Linked DNA regions of Homo sapiens. The protein of the gene in region 2 interacts with the protein of the main gene of each other region in a pairwise test. Each region holds a gene or a part of one and is shown on either strand. Other genes may lie near its edges. The genes, in order: KSR1 and MAP2K2.

The links.
Region 1: the proteins of MAP2K2 (region 2) and KSR1 interact in binary tests that used the Homo sapiens proteins (3 or more experiments, as listed by UniProt).

The regions. Positions count from the first base shown.
Region 1 is NC_000017.11:27,605,373-27,614,802, reverse strand, and holds part of KSR1 (kinase suppressor of Ras 1), read right to left. Parts: intron 9,370-9,430; coding exon 8,990-9,369; intron 6,890-8,989; coding exon 6,793-6,889; intron 5,608-6,792; coding exon 5,474-5,607; intron 4,737-5,473; coding exon 4,605-4,736; intron 3,954-4,604; exon of another isoform or gene 3,426-3,953; intron 3,310-3,425; coding exon 3,174-3,309; intron 1-3,173.
Region 2 is NC_000019.10:4,119,846-4,130,160, forward strand, and holds the start of MAP2K2 (dual specificity mitogen-activated protein kinase kinase 2), read right to left. Parts: upstream 4,278-10,315; 5' UTR 4,031-4,277; coding exon 3,939-4,030; intron 1-3,938. UniProt on the Homo sapiens protein: Catalyzes the concomitant phosphorylation of a threonine and a tyrosine residue in a Thr-Glu-Tyr sequence located in MAP kinases. Activates the ERK1 and ERK2 MAP kinases.

The DNA.
Region 1 (9,430 bases), on a different chromosome or scaffold from region 2:
GCATCTGCTCTCTCCCCACTCCCCACGCCCTGATCCCACACTGGTCTCAAAACAACCATCACCCCGCACTAAAAGAAATCCTTCCAATTAGTTCAGAACTCTGGCTGTGCTCTAGAATGATCTGAGGAGCTTTATTTAAAAATAAAAAATAAAAAAACTATGATCTTATTCCCATCCCAGGCCAATTTAATTGGTACCTCTGTGGGGGAGGCCTTAACCCTGGCATTTTTATAAAGCTCCCAGATGATTCCAACTTGCAGCCAGTGCCGAGCCTTGACTCCCTTGCAGCCCTTTGCTCAGCTCTGCTCCAGCCTTTGCCTCCCTGAAGATGGCACTTACCATTCTCTGCTCCAAGATGCTAAGTATGCAGAAAGGAAACAAACTGTTGCCAGGAGGGCAGAACGAAGAATATCTTTTCTCTCAGATGCAACAAATATACATAATACTCTGGTTTATACAAAGATGTCCTTGCTAACTCTTGTAAAGAGAGGTTAAAACTGGAAAGAATCCCCATGTCCAGTGACAGAAGTAGTTACATTATGGTGCGGCCACAGGACATAAGGGCAGACAGTCTTAACAATAAGGATTTGTTAATGATTTGAGGTAATGAGCATAATAAAATGTCATGTGGAAAAAGTCACAATAAAAAAATCAGCTAGGTTTTATGATATGTATGTCTTAAATATTTTTTTAAAAGACTATGCCAGGCATGGGGGCTCATGCCTGTAATCCCAGCACTTTGGGAGGCTGAGGCAGATGGATCCCTTGAGGCCAGGAGTTTGAGACCAGCTTGGCCAACATGGTGAAACCCCATCTCTACTAAAAATACAAAAATTAGCTGGATATTTTGGTGCATGCTTGTAATCCCAGCTACTTGGAGGCTGAGGCGGGAGATCACTTGAACCTGGGAAGCAGAGGTTGCAGTGAGCCAAGATCGTGCCACTGCACTTCAGCCTGGGCGACAGAGCAAAACTGCTTCAAAAAAAATTTAAAAAGACTGGAAAGCAGTGGTTACTTCAGCTGCCATCTGAGCTGCCCCAGAGCTCAGCCAAGGAGGCTGCAGCCACAGCCAGGAGCCCAAAACCTGTATCTTGAGCCCACTGACAGTTGCAGGAGGCAGATAAAGAAGGGTCCCTGGAGAACCTCCATCCTGCCCCACAAGTGTTTACAACAGATGTTTTTGTGCAGATGAGGGAACCTGCACAGGGTCTTGCCTGGGTACACCCACAATGGACTGGAGACCCACATGCACTGGGGGAATAGGGTGGAGCCACCAGGAATTCGCGCCTTATGCAGGGGAGGAGCCTGGCCTCTTCAGCTCGTGTGTGGTGGCCTGATATTCAATCTGTGAGATGGGAGCCTGTTGGGAGGACCCCCTCTTTTTTGCTGAGAGGTTTCTTTTAATGAATTCCACTCTCCTCACCTTTCAATGTGTCCGCATGCCTAATTTTTCCTGGTCATGAGACAAGAACCTGGATTTTAGCTGAGCTAAGGAGCAAAAAATTCTGCATCACCACCACACGCTCCTAAGGCACCCGAGGATGCACCAAGGTGAAGGTGGTGTTTAACTGGCCCTGGCCCAGAAGGAGGCCAAGAAGGACGGGCCTCAGAGTGTCAGAGAAGTGCTCATCACCCATGGCCCTTGCCCAGCACCCCAGATGAAATGGTATCAACTGGCCAAAGAGGAGCCTGCTGTTCGTGTTGTTAAATAGCATTTTGGTGTCATCTTTGGAGGGGCATCCCCGTACAAATATTTTGCACTTCAACAAGATGACATATACTACTGTGGAATAAAGTAGATCAGATATAATGTCATCTTGAGTGAGCCTTCTGAAGACGCCCTAGCTGCTTGCCACCAGTCAATTGAGAAAAATATTACCATCTATTAAGAACTTGGAGGACGATGAGGTTGAATTCATCACTGCAAATTTGCAGACAGAGTCTGCAGACAGACAGTGATCCTGCCAGCAATGTTCATGACCTTAACAAGAAGCTCACAGCCTGTTTGTATCTTAGCCTGGACAAGTGCTGGGTGGTCCCTCTGAAGACTTCAATTGTTATGCTGCCCAAATACTGACTGGAGTTGCTTATTAACATCAAGGCTGTTCTGTCCCAATCCTATCTGATTCATGGACACATGGCTATCACTGATGGCACTGAAAACACCAAGCCCTGGAGTTTCTTTATATATCACTGTGCTGTGATAAAGGAAACTGAAAGCTGTCAGAATCAAAAGAGAGTCACAAATGTGAAGAAAACTCTGACAAATCGGGCCTGGGAAAGCCATGAAGAGAGGCTTCTTGGGCTTGTATGTCTGATAACAAAAACTACCACTAAAGACTGCAAAAACTGCAACCTTGTACGAAGGCCATGGCAACCTTATACAAAAATACTCCTACAAGGACATCTGCCTCAAACAACCTGTCTAACCTTGGACTGACATCACTCTTGTTACTCATCTCTGTAGCCAGGGAAAACTACTAAATATGTCAAAATAATTGTGTAATCCTCTTCATTTTTTCCTTTACCTCCCTGAATAAGCAAGCCATTCACCATGGCATGCATATTCCCAGTGCAACGCTCTATTTCCAAATAAACATCTTTTGAGAGCCTCTCTCTCTTATTTAGCCTGACAAAACTTACAAACACAGAGAATCCATTAAGGAGAAACCATGTAGAAATGAGAAGTCGGCCACTATAATTAAGACTTGGTTTTTTGAAAACAAGTTTGCTGTGGAAACTTTGATTTGTTCTTAATAGTCAAGAAAAACATTATGAGGAAAGATTTAATACCACAGCATAGCACAACTATTTGTATTTTCAGCAGTGATTTTTTTAAAAAAAATTATCTTCTTTCATGTAAATAACATGGGGCTTTACTTTCTTTTCATCTCATAAATCAATGAAAACCATTATCTTTAAGAAAAAAAAAAGACTGAAAGGAATGAAAAGGGTGAGCAGTGGGGTGAGGATAGATATTTTCTTATTTATGCCTCCCTGTTCCTTCCCCATTCCCGGGCAATGCATATCATTTTCATCTCTAGCTAGACACGTGCAGGTGGCAGAGCTCCTCACCGACCCCATTTCTCAGGTGGGTGAGTGAAGGGCAGCCATGCCACATGCCCCACCCCACCTCCAGCCCTACTGCTCCACCCAGGGCAGGTACTACTTACACTGACTTCCTTCCCCAAGCTGACAGAAGTCAGGACACGCTTCATTCCTTCCCCGCTTCCAATCTGCCAGATGGATGCCTCTGCAGCCTGGTTCTTCAAGGGCCAGTCTCTTGCTTGCAGCTCATACCAAACAGTCCTGCAGAGACCCAGCCATGTCTGTGAGCTCCTGGGCCGCTGTGCCCAGCTCAAGCCCAGGGGCCCTTGAGCCATAGCCCAGCCAGAGGATCAGGACCCTTCTCCAGCCTTCCTCACCCACTTGGCTTCAGGGGATGCTACAGTGGGCTCCTGGAGGCTCCTCCCAGCCCTAGAGGACCTGGGCCCTGTGCTCTCGTTGGGTGGGAAGTCTGAGACAGCGCAGGTTTGACCGGAGCCTTGGTGGTCATTCTGACCTCAGCACAAATCCAGCTCTGCCACCTTCTAGCTGCAAGATCCCAGTAAAACTGCTTCACCTCAGTGGGGCTAATGTCTCTTGTCACAGGGTTGTTTGAGGAGTACTAAATTGCCAAGCCCAGCACCTGGCACACATGGGTGCTCAGGAAAGGATACAGTTAAAGGTCAGGGAGGAAGGATGGCGCCAAGGCCACCCCACTGGGAAGGATACCCAGATACAGCACAGGTGACCGGGGTGGTGAGCCTTCCTTGGCCTCTCTACGTCCCCTTGGCTTTCTTCACTTGGGATGGGACTTTCTCCATCAGACCCACACTGTCCAATGTGGGAGCCTCTTGCCACAGGGGGGCTACTGAGTGACTGAAATGTGCACAGTTGAATGGAGGGGTGCTCTAGGCAGAAAACACACCAGATTTTAAAGACTTAGTAGGAAAAAAGAATATAAAATATCTTATTAATTTGTATATTGATTACATGTTGAAATAATATTTTGGATATATTGAGTTAAATAAAATATATCGTTTTATAATATATAAAACATAAACAGGGGAAACTAATTTCATCCATTTCTTTTTTAATGTGGCTATTAGAAAACTTTAACTTCTATATCGGGCTCACATTATATTGCTACTGGTCAGCACCCAGGTCTTTGTGGGGTAGCAGAGCCGGCAGGATATCCAGCTCCCCCAGACTGGGAGGAGCAGTTCTTGGTCAGCTCTGGTGAGCATCCTCCCAGATCAGCTGGGTGGGGCTGACAGCCAGTGTTAAGCACTGCACACAATTACCTGATTTAGTCCTCATGAAATGACCTTGTTGGGAGGAGCTATTCCAGGTCAAGGATATAGTCATGCACTCAACAAGCGGCAGAGCCAGGACTCAAGACCATGCACTCAACAAGCGGCAGAGCCAGGACTCAAGGTTGATTTTTTACTCCAGAGCCTGGGTTTTCAACACCTAAAAGCATGCCTCCCTCTGCCCCCAATGGCCACCAGGGCCCTCTGTTTTGGCCACACTTGGCCTCAGGGCACCAGGGGCCTACTCACCCAAATGCATAGACATCAGCAGCTTTGGAGAATGGCAGCTGATCCTCGTCCTTCCCGGGGGTCATCTCGCGTACAATCTCAGGGGCCAGATAGCACAGCCAGTCGTGGGACAGCTTTAGCTGGTTCTCACGCCTGGAGACCAGGAAGCCGGGACAAGGACACAGGCCTTTCAGCAGGCAGCAAAGAGGCCTGCCTGGCACAGGTCTGCCCCAGGGCCGGCAGAACACCCACACACAGCTTAGAAAACACACCCAGACCCAGAACACTGACCCTGCACTTGGGAAAGGCACCGGTGCTTTTGAGGAATTCTACAAAGGAGTCATGACCGGTTGTTTCTAGAAAAGCAGGGCAAGAATGGATAAATATTGACAGGGAGCTGCTGGTGAAGGTGCCCAGCTCCCTCTGCTGGAGAATGAGGCGCCTCTCTAACCAGGAACCCTGATCTGCCTGTGGATCTCAAACTTGGCTGGGGCTGGCCTTGCAGCCTTGCTGCCATGCTCCCTTTTGGGTTCCCCTAGATGTGAGGGGAGGGGCCTTTCTCCCTATGCCAATCCCTTCAAGATTTGGGGAAATAAAATTTGACACTCTTCCTCATCGTGGGGAAATGACCTGGTTCCTTGGCCAAGCGGGTGAACAGCCAGGGCAAATGTGAGTGTGGGGACCTGGTTTCCGTGGAAGTCGGCCTGAGAATCCAAACGCGACCCAAATCTGATTCTGAACCAGAACTACGAGGGCAGGACCAAAGCGACCTGGGCTTCCCTGCAGGGAGGGCTGCAGCTCAGCAACAAACAGTGAAAGTGCCCAGACCTCAGCCCTGCTCTTCCCCATCCAGCACCCACAACCCACCCAGACACTCAAGACCAACTCACCGTCCCTCTCGGACCACGCCTGAGATCCCAAACAGCCCGAAGTCTGTGATGACCACCTTGCCGTTGTCATAGAAGACGTTCTTAGATTTGAGATCTTTGTGTACGATGCCCTTGGCATGAAGATATCCCATGCCCTGGAGGACACATCAGGAGGAGTGAAGATGTGCAACGATGACGGAGGTGCCACCCTGGGCTGGATGATTTACCTAAATCCCCATATTTGATCTTCACAATTCCATGCAGTATATTGTCCCCATTTTACAGAAGAAGAAATCGAGGTTCAGAGAGGGAAAGTCACTTGCTCCAAGCCACACAGCAGTGAAGAAGCAGAGCTGAGATCTGATCCCAGACCGGTCTATGCTCTTTTAATGTTACCATGCTTCTAAACAACCATGTTAACCTTGGCTAAGGTAGGAGGTGTGAACAGGGTGATGGGCAGGGAGCCGGGGGGTCAGGGACAGTGAGATTTATCAGTGTACAGTCATAAAGGGCCTAAATGAGCTGGGGTTTTCTGTCAGGATATGCACAGCTGGTCTGTGCTCTCAGGCAGGACAAGGGCTCAAGGTGGGGGAACAGAGAGGCATTCCCACAGCGGGGTCCCCAACTTTGAGTGCTCCTAATGTCTGAGCTGTAGTAGAAGGAGCCCTGGACTAAGAAATCTGGGGTTTGAACTCCATCTCAGCTCAGATTCTCACTCACTCTGTGGCCTTGGACACAGTGCTCAACTTCTCTGAAGACTGGTTTCCTCACCTATCAAGCGAAGAGGTGGCAGTGGGTGATTTCTAACCAATGCTCTATTTGAACTAACACTGATGAGTCAGGTGCATGGAGCGTGGGTGACCTGACATAGGCATGATCTCATCCAAGGTCAAGCTGTCTTCAAACACCAGACCCAGGGCTCCTGTGTACCCCACAGCATGGATTATCGCGTTTTTAACCTCACACCAATCCAGAGAGGGAGGATATATGAAGATCCCCATTTTACAGGGGAGAAAACTGAGGCTTAGAGAGGCTAAACCTACCCAAGGTCACACAAAGGGTGTGACCAGGATTGAAACTGGCCTCTAAAGCCTGCCAAGTTCCTTCCCAACCAAGTCAATTCCATCAAGCCTAATCATGTGGACAATCAGCTCCCAGCTCTGAATGAATGAGACAGAGACAGGGAGGAAGAGATGGGGTCCCACCCTTGAGGAGCCTGAGCTAGAAGGAGAGGCAAAGCTGCCCAAACCACCCTAACAGGGAGTAACAGGGCGAGAGGAACAGCCGAGAGCCCTGGAACCGGCCAGAAACCCACCCCCAGCAGCTGGGCACCCCCTCACCTTGATGATCTCCTGAGCGATTTGCCTCGTCTTGTTGATGTCCAGAGACGTCTTGGGGTCCCTCACAAACGAGTGCAACGTCCGCCCCTTGCAGAAGCTGTCGAGGGTGGTGGGGGTCAAGCACAAGTCTGGGGCTGGTGCGGCCTGACCCCAACCCTGGTGGAGCCCATGGGGAGAACTGTGCCCGTCTGCCTGCAAGGACTCTCTCCAGCCCCTCGACTGTGAGCCAAATCTTCTTTAACCCAGCCCAGTCCTGCTGGGGCCTGGCCTGAACGTGCAGAAACACATGACACCACACACGTACACGCACACAAACCCCCATTCCCTGAGAGCCAGTGCCTGCCCATCCTACAACAGGAAACAGTGCATCAAAGCTCTCAGGAACTCAGAGTAGCCATGCTTGGTGGGTTCAAGGCAGGACCACTCTGATGGGGAAGAACTTGGCTAATTTAAGGGCATCAACAGGCAACATCAAGGCTCTGGGGCTCACTGTCAAGAATCTCATTATAGTTTTCATTTTTTCTTGATCACAGGGTTTTTATTACAATAAAGGAGTGTGCAAGGAGGGAAAGGGGGTGGGGTAGATGTTAGGGGCGTCAAGGTGACTACTGGAAAAGGAGCTTCAGTTCTGGGGTCGCCACCTGCATCAACTCCTAAAACCCCGGGTGAGGAGGGACCCAGAGAGAATGTGGGTCCAAGGGAGCTATCTTAGGAAGGGACTATGTTTTTAGGAAAATATTCTTGGAGTCTCAGAGCCTTTGAAAACCAGGCAAGGGGTAGAGAATATTGGTTGGTGATTTCCTTATCTGTGTCCCACTTTTCTTCAGCGTATTCTAAACAAAGTAAGATTTTTTTGTTAATGAATATTTTCCTGTTTCAGGCAGGCCACAGTGGCTCACGCCTGTAATCTCAGCACTTTGGGAGGCTGAGGTGGGCGGATCACCTCAGGTCAAGAGTTTGAGACCAGCCTGGCCAACACGGTGAAACCTCATCTTTACTGAAAATATAAAAATTAGCGAGGCGTGGTGGCACACGGCTGTAATCCCAGCTACTTGGGAGGCTGAGGCACGAAAATTGCTTGAGCCTGGGAGGCAGAGGTTGCAGTGAGCCAAGAACACGCCACTGCACTCCAGCCTGGGTGACAGAGCGAGACCCTGTCTAGTTTATCATTAATTAATTACCTGTTTTGTTTTTCATTAACTACTTTTTTTTTTTTTTTGAGATGGAGTCTTGTTCTGTAAATAAATTACGGGACCACCAGTGATCAGCTCTTGATTATACAACTCTTCCCAACTCTACTCCACTCCAGGAGATAACATTGGTAGTCTGAAATTGACCATGGTGAGAGTATTTACACCACAGGAAGTGATGGATGTTATAAATTAGGGCTTCCCTCCATACTGCCCCAAAACTGGTTGTTACACATTTACCAGCACACCACTGGGTTCAGCCTACGTGATGGGGATACTGTGCAGGTGTTAGAAGAGAGTAGACCTCAGACCCACAATCGGGTGCAGGAGGCAAGGTGTGAGCCAGCATGATCTCTCCTTTGTATTTTTACAAAAAGGAATAAACAGTTTAAAAACGTGAGTATATGCAAATGTCTTCCTTTTAACAGAAGGAATGTTAACTGTTTATAGTGTCTCTGACTTTGGGGAGAAGCGCTCAGTTGCAGTGGGAGAAGACTGGCTTTCACTCTGTACCTTTTATGGACATTTGATCTTCTGTAAACTTAGAAAGGTCTCACTCTGTCACCCAGGCTGGAGTGCAGTGGCATGATCTTGGCTCGCTGCAGCCTTGACCTCCTGGGCTCAAGCGATCCTCCTGCCTCAGCCTCCCAAGTAGCTGAGACCACAGGCACAGGCACCTGCCACCAGGCCCAGCTAATTTTTTTGTAGAGACAGCGTCTCAGTATGTTGCCCAGGCTGGTCTCAAGCTCCTGGGCTCAAGCAATCCTTCCACCTTGGCCTCCCAAAGTGTTGGGATTACAGACATGGGCCACTGCACCAGCCCATATTTATTTATTTTTTAGTGTCAATGCGGTTATGTGATTAGGAAGTTATACCCCATTTTTGGTTTTCTTCTTTATGCCTCTATTAGAACTTCCACACCCTCTAGGGCATCCACACAAACAGGGCTCCCTGGGAAGGGGGAGGCTGAGCTGGCCATCCAGCATGAGGTCCTAGGGCTTGGTTACCTGGTGATAATGGCCAGGTGGGGCGGGTTCATGCAGGCCCCCATGAAGAGCACCACGTTCTCATGCCGCGTCTGCCGGTAGTTCATCACCTCTTTCTTGAAGAGCTTCAGGTGGTCCTGGTTGTGGCCGTCCATCTCCAGCAGGCGAATGGCCACCTCGCCATGCCAGCGGCCGCGGTGCACCCGGCCCCAGCGGCCCTGCCCGATGGGCTCGCCCAGCTCTACCTGCTCGAAGGGGATGTCCCACTCCTGCAGGTACACGCTGGTCTGGCTGGCCTTGCGAGAGATGGGGCCCCGCCAGGGCCGGCGAGAGCTCGGCAAGTCGTCCACCTCGTCCTCATCGTCTTCTGCCTCTGACTTGCCAGCCTCTGGCTCCTCAGCCTGAAAGGAGAGCAGGAAGAACAGGGATGGGCAGCAGATCTGGGCTCTGCGACGTCTCTTC
Region 2 (10,315 bases):
GCGTGGACTGCTCCTTCCATCTGGAAATTTCCAATCCCAAAGTTCGACCACTGTTCGCCTACAGCTGGAAGTGGCGTAAGCCACGGGGCACACAGGCCAGAACCGAGGCGATGGCGCTGGAGCTGGTGCTGCAAAGAGCTCGCTGGAAGGCAGGGGCCTGGGCACCGCTTCCTGGGCTGGACAAACACCATCTCATTCCATTCTCACCATCGTCCCCGGAGGCCCAGGCAGGAGGGAACAGACTCACAGGGGTGGGGGAACCTGCCCGAGGTAACAACACCTGCCTGAGGTCAGGACAACCCCTGCTCATCTTAGTGTCCCCCATGAGGGGAAACAGGGCCCTAGTAGGTGCTCACTGAGGAGCTGCTGAACAAGGACCCAGAAGAAGCAGAAATGGCGAGACCCTGGGAGTGGGACAGAAGGTAAGGAGGGGAACATGAATGAATGAATGAATAACATCAATGAATAAATGAATATTTATTTTTTTTGAGACAGTCTTGCTCTGTCGCCCAGGCTGGAGTGCACTGGCACGATCTCAGCTCACTGCAACCTCTGCCTCCTGGGTCCAAGCGATTCTCCTGCCTCAGCCTCCTGAGTAGCTGGGATTACAGGTGTGCATCACCGCGCTCAGCTAATTTTTTTGGCATTTTTAATAGAGACGGGGTTTTGCCATGTTGGCCAGGTTGGTCTTGAACTCTGGGCCTCAAGTAATCCACCCACCTTGGCCTCCCAAAGGGCTGGGATTACAGGCGTGAGCCACCACACCCAGCCATGAATGAACACTTCTGATGGCAGACTTGGAAGGTCTCAAGTACTGCTCAAAACATTGAAAATGCATTCTGGAGTCAGCTGACTAATCCATCTTAAATTTACTGGCAACCCAACTGTGGTTATTAAACAAAACAAAACAAAACCTTGGCGTCCCTACAGCCAGCTTCCTCTCCTGGGGGAATCCTTCAAGAGATGGGAATCAAACCCCACACGGAAGAGAAATGTGAAGGGCGAGTTCTGTGCAGAGAATGAGGAACGGGTCCCCGTGTCTGGCTGTGCCCGTGTTGACTTGCACACATTGGCATCAAGAGTCTTCATCTGGGTCACAGAAGGCCGACCCCCAAGCGGGAGAGGCCACCAGACATGCCACAGTCCCTGACACCTGGTTCTTGAGGGGTCACACCGCAGGCACGGCACCCGGACCCCAGCCAAGGGCCCCGGGGATCGCCCTGCCCTGCCTCGGCCTGCAGAACGGGAGTGCAGAGATCACCCTGGCATGACCCCACCAGTGTGTGCCCCCAACACCCAGTCCCCTCCCTCGTCCTGGAGCAGTGCGATTCTGCCAGCACGCCACCCGGACCCCAGCATACCCCTTTCTCAGATCCCTTCACCCAGGCCTCTGGTCGCCCTCCACCTCCTCAAAGCTTCTGCACTGGGTCAGCCCCTCACAAGGGTTTTCCGGTCCACTCACTTCAGAATCTGCACCTCTGCTTTCAGGGGCCAGCAGGGTCCCCTGATCCCCACGCCTCCTCGTTCCTCACACTCTGGCTTCCCTGTCTCCTCACACTTCCAGCTTCAGGGACTCCACACACTGGGCACCGCCACAAGCAGGAGATGCCCTCTCAGAGATGCCCATCTTGACATCTTGACCTCCCTGGGACCCCATCCTGACCCCCTCAGAACCCCAACATGAGACCCCTAGGACCCCCTGCTCTGCCCTCCCAGAACCCCCACAACATGACCCCCCGAGGACCCCCTAACCTGACCCCCCCAGAATCCCCCAACATGACCCCCGAGGACCCAACCTGACCCCCCCCACAACATGAACCCCCTGGAACCCCTGTCCTGATCCCACTAGACCTCCCCCAGCAGAAACCCCTCCATCTGGAACCCGCTAGAACTCCCATCCTGACCCCGCTAAAGCCCCCCCATGTCCTGACACCCCTAAGACACCCCCTTGTCCTCAGATACCCCAGAACTCCCACCCTGACCCCCCCAAAGTCCCCCGATCCTGACCTTTCTAGGGTCTCCCACCCCATCGTGACCCCCTAGGACACCCCTCTCCCACATCCTGACCCTTCTGGGAGCCCCCTGTCCTCCCCTCTCTTCCCTTTTCCCTGGTTGTCTATGGACCTCCTCACCCCATCCTCTCCCCTAAGGGACCCCCCTGCCCCACCTTGGCACCCTAGGTGCCCTCTTCATCCCATGCCAACCTCATTACTCAGGGACTCATTCCCCAAAAGGACCGCTCCCCGCCCCCCCAAGACCTCTCAGCCTGTCCTCCCCACCCAGGTGCTGCACTCTCAACCTGTGGCTCAGGCACCCTCCCACCCCATCTCTCCCCCATAGGAACCCTCCCACCCCATCTCTCCCCCATAGGGACCCTCCCACCCCATCTCTCCCCCATAGGGACCCTCCCACCCCATCTCTCCCCCATAGGGACCCTCCCACCCCATCTCTCCCCCACAGGGACCCCCTCACCCCATCTCTCCCCCATAGGGACCCCCTCACCCCATCTCTCCCCCATAGGGACCCTCCCACCCCATCTCTCCCCCATAGGGACCCCCTCACCCCATCTCTCCCCCATAGGAACCCTCCCACCCCATCTTTCCCCCATAGGGACCCCCTCACCCCATCTCTCCCCCAAGGGACTCGCTTCACTATCATTTCAATATGCAGAACACCCCTTGCCTATCCTTCCCCCACAGGCCCCCACCGACACATCCTCTCCTCCCAGGGACCCCCTCAACCCCATCTCACAATTCAGGGGCCCTGCACCCCATCTTCTCTCTGCAAGGACATCTCCTTGGCCTGATCTCACGACTTAGGGATTCCAAACCCCATCTTTTCCCCAAAGGGATCTCCCCTCACTCCAATCTCATTACTCAGGGACCCCACCATCTCCCCGATTTCACTATTCAGGGACCGTTCACCCCATTTCACTACTCAGAGACCTACCACCATTCTGCTACTCAGTGACTCCATGCCCTGTCTTTTCCCACAGGGACCTCCCTTGGCCCTATCTCATTATTGAGGGACCCTTACCCCGTCTTTTCCTACCAGGGACCCTACCCCATCTCAGTCTCATTACTCAGGGACCCCTCACCCCATCCTCTCCCCTCTGGAGCCCCCTTGCCCAGATTTCCTCCTCAGGGGCTGCCTGACCTCCCCACACCCCATCCTCTCCTCTCAGGAATGCCCTGCACCCCGATTTCCCTACTCAGGGTCTCCCCTCACCCTCATCTCATGACTACGGCAACCTTTACTCCGTCCTTTCCTCTTAGGAACTCTTCACCCTCATTTCACTACTCAAGGACCCCACACTGTGTTCTCTCCTCTTAGAGATACCCCTCACCCCGATCTCACTGCTTGGGGAGCCTCATCCTGTTCTCTCCTTGGGGACACCCCTCATTCCGATTTTCCTACTGAGGGACTCCCCTCACCCCAGCTTCACTTTTCAGAAGCCCCACACCCCATCTTCTGCACTGCAGGGACCTCCCCTCACTCAACCTCGCTGCTCAGGGACCCCTGTCCCCATCCTCTCCTCTTAGAGACATCCTTCACCCCAACTTCACTACTCAGAGACTCCCGTTATCCCAATTCCACTCTTCAGGAACCCCACACCCCATCTTTTCCACCACAAGGACCTCCCCTCGCCCAATCTCACTGCTCAAAGACCCCCCTGCCCCGTGCACCCTTCGCCCCGTCCTCCGAGGGCCCCCTGCCCCGTCCTCCCCCGAGGGCCCCCTGCCCCGTCCTCCCCCGAGGGTCCCCTGCCCTGTCCTCCCCTCGAGAACCCCCTGCCCCGTGCACCACTCACCCCGTCCTCCCCCGTGACCCCCCTGCCTCGTGCACTCCTCGCGAACCCCCGTCCCCTCGCCCCGTCCTTCCCCGAGGGCTCCCTGCCCCGTGCACCCCAAGCCTCCGGCTGACCCCTGCCCACTCACTCGGAGGCGCCCTCGCTGGTAGGGGATGGGCCCTCGGCGATGGTAGGGTTGATGGTGAGCGCCGGCAGCACCGGCTTCCTCCGGGCCAGCATCGGGGCTCCGCGGGCCGGCGGCGGCGGCGCCTCTAGCCGGGGCCCATAGGGGGCGGGCCGGGAGCGGTCGGCGCCTACGCGAGCCCGGGGCTGCGGCCGCGGCCCAGGCCGGCGTCGGGGCGGCCGAGGGCGGGCGGCGCTGCGGGCCTGGGCCGAGGGTAGCCGAGGGGCGCTGGGGCTGAGGCGAGCGAGCCGCTACCGCTGCCGAGGCCCGAAGAAGGCTGACGCCGCAGCCCGAGTCCGAGAGGCAGGGGGAGGGGAGGGGCGGCCACAAGATCGCGGACCGGCTTCTCGCGATAACGGGATCGGGAGCCGCGATGGACCCCACCCCCAGCCGCCGCGCCTGCGCAGCAGCACAAGGCCGCCTTTCGGAGGGGAAAGGGGCGGAGACCGACGCGAGGCGGTGCCGGGACCGGGCGCCCTCGCTTGCCTTACCACGGCGCGTGTGCCCAAGCGCTTGGGGCATGAGGCGCGGGAGCAGGGGAGGAGACGGAGGGATGAAGGCTGGGGTGATGGTCGTGCACAGGTGGGCAGGGTAGCCAGACTCCTGAGAGCCTGTGGTGCCCCAGGCTGGGGCTGAGAGAACCCGTAAGACCCCAGAACAGTGGACGAGACCCACCCAGAGTCCATTTAATCTTTTTGGCAAGCGTGGACACACGCCCCTAGCCCCCACCGCCTTAGAGTGTCAGTTACTCCCCCTCCTTCATCAGAACAAGGCCACTCTAAAACATTTTTAAAATTTATTTTAATTGACAAATAAAATTGCATATATTACTATGCGCATGTTGAAACATTTTTATTATAAAATACACATAACATAAAACTTGTCATTTTAACCATTTCTAAATGCACAGCTCAGCGGCATTAAGCAACCACCACCACCACCATCTCCAGAATTTTCTCATCTTCCGAAACTGAAACACTGTCCCCTATGAAACCTCACTCCCTATCCCCCTCCCCAGCCCCTGGAACCCAACGTCGTACTTCCTGTGAATCTGATGATTCTAGGGACTTCATATGAGTAGGATCACACAGGTTTTGTCCCTTTGTGGCTGGCATATTTCACTGAGGGCCACGTCCTCAAGGTGCCTGTTGTAGCTGTGTTAGATCCACGTTGTAACCTGTGTTAGAATTTACCCACTTGACTACTCCGGGCATACTTCCAATCGGGTAGCCCTGCTCCAAAAAAGAGCAGAAAAAAAAAAAAAAAGAAAAATTTCCCTTTTTTTTTTTTTGAGACGGAGTCTCGCTCTGTCACCCAGGCTGGAGTGCAGTGGTGCGATCTCGGCCCACTGCAAACTCTGCCTCCCGGGTTCACGCCATTCTCCTGCCTCAGCCTCCCGAGTAGCTGGGACTACAGGTGCCCACCACCATGCCCGGCTAATTTTTTTGTATTTTTAGTAGAGACGGGGTTTCACCGTGTTAGCCAGGATGGTCTCCATCTCCTGACCTCGTGATCCACCCGCCTCGATCTCCCAAAGTGCTGGGATTACAGGCGTGAGCCACCGCACCCAGTCAGGATTTTCCTCCTTTTTAAGGCTGAATAATATTCTATTGTGTGCATGGACTATATTTTGCTTATCCATTTATCTGCCACTAGACACTTCGGTGAATCGTGCCGCTATGAACACAGATGTACAAATATCTGTTTGAGTCCTTGCCTTGAGTTCTTTTGGGTATATGTTCTGAAGAGGAATTACTGGATTATATGGTAATTCTATGTTGAACTTTTTGAAGCACCACCTTACTATTTAATACAATAGCCGTACCACTTTATAAGAAAGGTCATAGGCTGGGCGCGGTGGCTCACGCCTGTAATCCCAGCACTTTGGGAGGTCGAGGCGGGTGGATCACCTGAGGTCAGGAGTTGAAGACGAGTCTGGCCAACATGGTGAAACCCCGTCTCTACTAAAACAAAAAAATACAAAAATTAGCCGGGCATGGTGGCGCGTGCCTGTAATCCCAGCTACTCGCGAGGTTGAGGCAGAAGAATTGCTTGAACCCGGGAGGCAGAGGTTGCAGTGAGCCAAGATCACGCCATTGCACTCCAGCTTGGGAGACAAGAGCGAGACTTCGTCTCAAAAAAATCAAACAAACAAACAAACAAACAAATAAATAAATAAAATACAAAAATTAGCCAGGCCTGGCGGTGTGTGCCTATAGTCTCAGCTACTCAGGCGGCTGAGGCAGGAGAATCGCTTGAACCCGGGGGGCAGACGTTGCAGTGAGCCAAGATTGCACCACTGCCCTCCAGCCTGGGCGACAAAGTAAGACTCCGTCTCCAATAAAACAGAACAAAAAAAAATTTAATTTTTTGCCAGGTGCCGTGGCTCACACCTGTAATCCCAGGACCCTGGGAAGCTGAGGTGGGCTGATCACTTGAGGTCAGGAGTTCGAGACCAACCTGGCCAACATGGTGAAACCTCGTCTCTACTAAAAATACAAAAATTACACAGGTGTGGTGGCGGGTGGCTGTAATTCCAGCTACTAGGGAGGCTGAGGTGGGATAACTGAACCCCGGAGGCGGAGGTTGCAGTGAGCCGAGATTGTGCCATCGCATTCCAGCCTGGGCGACAGAGCCAGACTCACGCTCAAAAAACAAAACCAACCAACTGGCCGGGCGCGGTGGCTCACGCCTGTAATCCCAGCACTTTGGGAAGCCAAGGCAGGTGGATCATGAGGTCAAGAGATTGAGACTATCCTGGCCAACATGGTGAAACCCCGTCTCTACTAAAAATACAAAAATTAACTGGGTGTGGTGATGCGTGCCTGTAGTCCCAGCTACTCGGGAGGCTGAGGCAGGAGAATCGCTTAAACCCGGGAGGTGGAGGTTGCAGTGAGCCGAGATCACGCCATTGCACTCCAGCCTGGGCGACCGACCGAGACTCCATCTCGAAAAAAACAAAACAAAACAAAACAACAAACAAAACACTGCTCCTGGGGAAGCCTGCTCCTGGGTTTTTACAATCTGGGCCTTTCAGTTTTACTTCTCATCGCTCCCACCCGCTTGTCCAAAATTCAGATGGATGCATATGTGGCCTCAAATAAGGACAGGCCCTTTCAGAGACAGGGCTATTTCCATGTTCCTTCTGTTTTGCCTAGCAATCTTTCTCCCATTTTATCCTATTTTAGGCTTTTTTTTTCTTTTTAAGACAAGTTCTGACTCTGTCACCCAGGCCTCAGGCTGGAGTGCAGTGGCACGATCATAACTCTCTGCAGCCTCCACCTCCCTGGCTCAAGCGATTCTCCCACCTCAGCCTCCCTAGTAGCCCTGGCTACAAACATACGCCACCACACTCGGCTAATTTTTGTATTTTTTGTCCAGACAGGGTTTCTCCATGTCACTCAGGCTGGTCTCACACTCCTAGGCTCAAGCGATCCTCCTGCCTCGTCCTCAGCAGTGCTGGGACTAGAGCCGTGAGCCACTGCACTCACCTATTAATGCACAAGTTTCTGAAGTTCAATTTCTTGGATTATTACAACTCTATACATCCATGTAACACTTCCCCTTACTCCAGAAAGTCTGTTCACTGCCTTTTTAGTTCATTCTCTTCCTCTGCACCCAGCAGTAGTGAGCTGGTAAATGTTTAACAATGAGCCATTAAAATAAGGAGAGGCCGGGTGTGGTGGCTCACACCTGCAATCCCAGCACTTTGGGAGGCCAAAGCAGGTGATCACTTGAGGTCAGGAGTTCGAGTCCAGCCTGGCCAACATGGTGAAACCCCATCTCTACTAAATATACAAAAATTAGGCTGGTCACGGGTGTAATCACAGCACTTTGGCAAGCCGAGGTGGGCAGATCACCTGAGGTCAAGAGTTCAAGACCAGCCTGACCAACATGGTGAAACCCCGTCTCTACTAAAAACACACAAAAATTAGCCGGGCATGGTGGTGGGCACCTGTAATCCCAGCTACTCGGGAGGCTGAGGCAGGAGAACTGCTTGAACCCCGGAGGTGGAGGTTGCAGTGAGCCAAGATTGTGCCCCTGCACTCCAGCCTGGGCAACAGAGTAAGGCTCCATCTCGGAAAAAAAAAAAAAATTAGCTGGGCATGGTGGCAGGTGCCTGTAGTCTCAGCTACTTGGGAGGCTGAGGCACGAGAATTACTTGAACCTGAGAGGTGGAGGTTGCAGTGAGCCAAGATCGTGCCACCGCACTCCAGCCTGAGGGAGACTCTGTCTCAAAAAAAAAAAAAAAAAGAAGAAGACCAGATGTGGTGGCTCATGCCTATAATCCCTGCACTTTGGGAGGCCGAGGCGGGTGGATCACCTGAGGTCGGGAGTTCGATACCAGCCTGACCAACATGGACAAACCCTGTCTCTACTAAAAATACAAGGCCGGGCGCGGTGGCTCACGCCTGTAATCCCAGCACTTTGGGAGGCTGAGGCAGGCAGATCACGAGGTCAGGAGATCGAGACCAGAGACCATCCTGGCTAACACAGTGAAACCCTGTCTCTACTAAAAATACAAAAAAATTAGCCAGGCGTGGTGGCGGGCACCTGTAGTTCCAGCTACTCAGGAGGCTGAGGCAGGAGAATGGTGTGAACCCGGGAGGTGGAGCTTGCAGTGAGCTGAGATTTCGCCACTGCACTCCAGCCTGGGCAAGAGAGCAAGACTCTGTCTAAAAAAATAAATAAATAAAAATAAAAATACAAAACTAGCCAGGTGTGGTGGCACATGCCTGTAATCCCAGCTACGAGGGAGGCTGAGGCAGGAGAATCGCTTGAACCCAGGAGGTGGAGGTTGTGGTGAGCCGAGATGGTGCCACTGTACTCCAGCCTGGGCAACGAGAGTGAAAGTCAGTCTCAAAAAAAATAAAGTTGACAATGGTATCAAAGATGCTTACGAGTGGCTGTAAGCCAGCTGCAGTCCACTACTACTCCCAAAACCCCCCCAGATTCTGCGTTCTATCCCCATAGATTAGTTTTTGCCTGTTCAAGAGTTTCATGTAAATGGAATTGCACTCATGGTGTCAGTTCTTTTTTTTTTTTTTTTTTTTTGAGACAGAGTCTCACTCTGTCACCCAGGCTGGAGTGCAGTGGCACGATCTCGGCTCACTGCAACTTCCACCTCCGAGGTTCAAGCGATTCCCGTGCCTCAGCCTCCGGAGTAGCTGGGATTATAGGCGTGTGCTACCACACCCAGCTAATTTTTGTATTTTTAGTAGAGATGGGGTTTCACCATATTGGCCAGGCTGGTCTTGAACTCCTGATCTCGTGATCCACCTGCCTCGGCCTCCCAGAGTGCTGGAATTATAGGCTGGGATTACAGGCGTGAGCCACCGCACCCGGCCTGGTGTCAGCTCTTTCTGCTTTAGGACAATGTTTTGTTTTTGGTTTTGGTTTTGTTTTAGACAGGATTTTCCTTTATTGCACAGGCTGGAGTGTAGTGGTGTGATCTCAGCTCACTACAGCCTCCACTTTCTGGGCTCAAGCCATCCTCCCACCTCAGCCTCCGGAGTAGCTGGGACTACAGGCTCCCACCGCCATGCCCAACTAATTTTATATTTTTTGTGGAGATGGGGGGGTCTCATCATGTTGCCCATGCTGGTCTCAAACTCCTAGGCTCAAATGACCCCAGTGACTTGGCCTCCCAAAGTGCTGGGATTACAGGCGTCAGTCACTGTACCAGGTCCTGAGACAATATTTTTGAGATTCATTTATATTATTTCACATAACGATAATTAGTTCGGTTTCCTTGCTAGATGATATCCCATTGTATGTACTGTGGGCATTGCCCTTGACATAGAACAGTAAATGAATCATCCTTCTGGCCGGGCGCGGTGGCTCACGCCTCTAATCCCAGCACTTTGGGAAGCCGAGGCGGGTGGATCACGAGGTCAGGAGATCAAGACCATCCTGACTAACATGGTGAAACCCCGTCTCTACTAAAAATACAAAAAAAATTAGCAGGGCGTGGGGGCAGGCGCCTGTAGTCCCAGCTACTTGGGAGGCTGAGGCAGGAGAATGCCGTGAACCCAGGAGGCGGAGCTTGCAGTGAGCCGAGATCGCGCCACTGCACTCCAGCCTGGGTGATTGAGCAAGACGGTCTGTCTCAATAAGTAAGTAAGTAAATAAATAAATATATAAATTCTCCTTCTTTTTTTTGGAGACGATCTCACTCTGTTACCCAGGCTGGAGTGCAGTGGTGTAATCACTGCTCACTGCAGCCTCTACCTCCCGGGATCAGGTGATCCTCCTGCCTCAGCCTCCTGAGTAGCCGGGATGACAGGTGCACACCACCATGCCCAGCTAATTTTTTATTTTTTGTAGAAATGGGCAAGGGG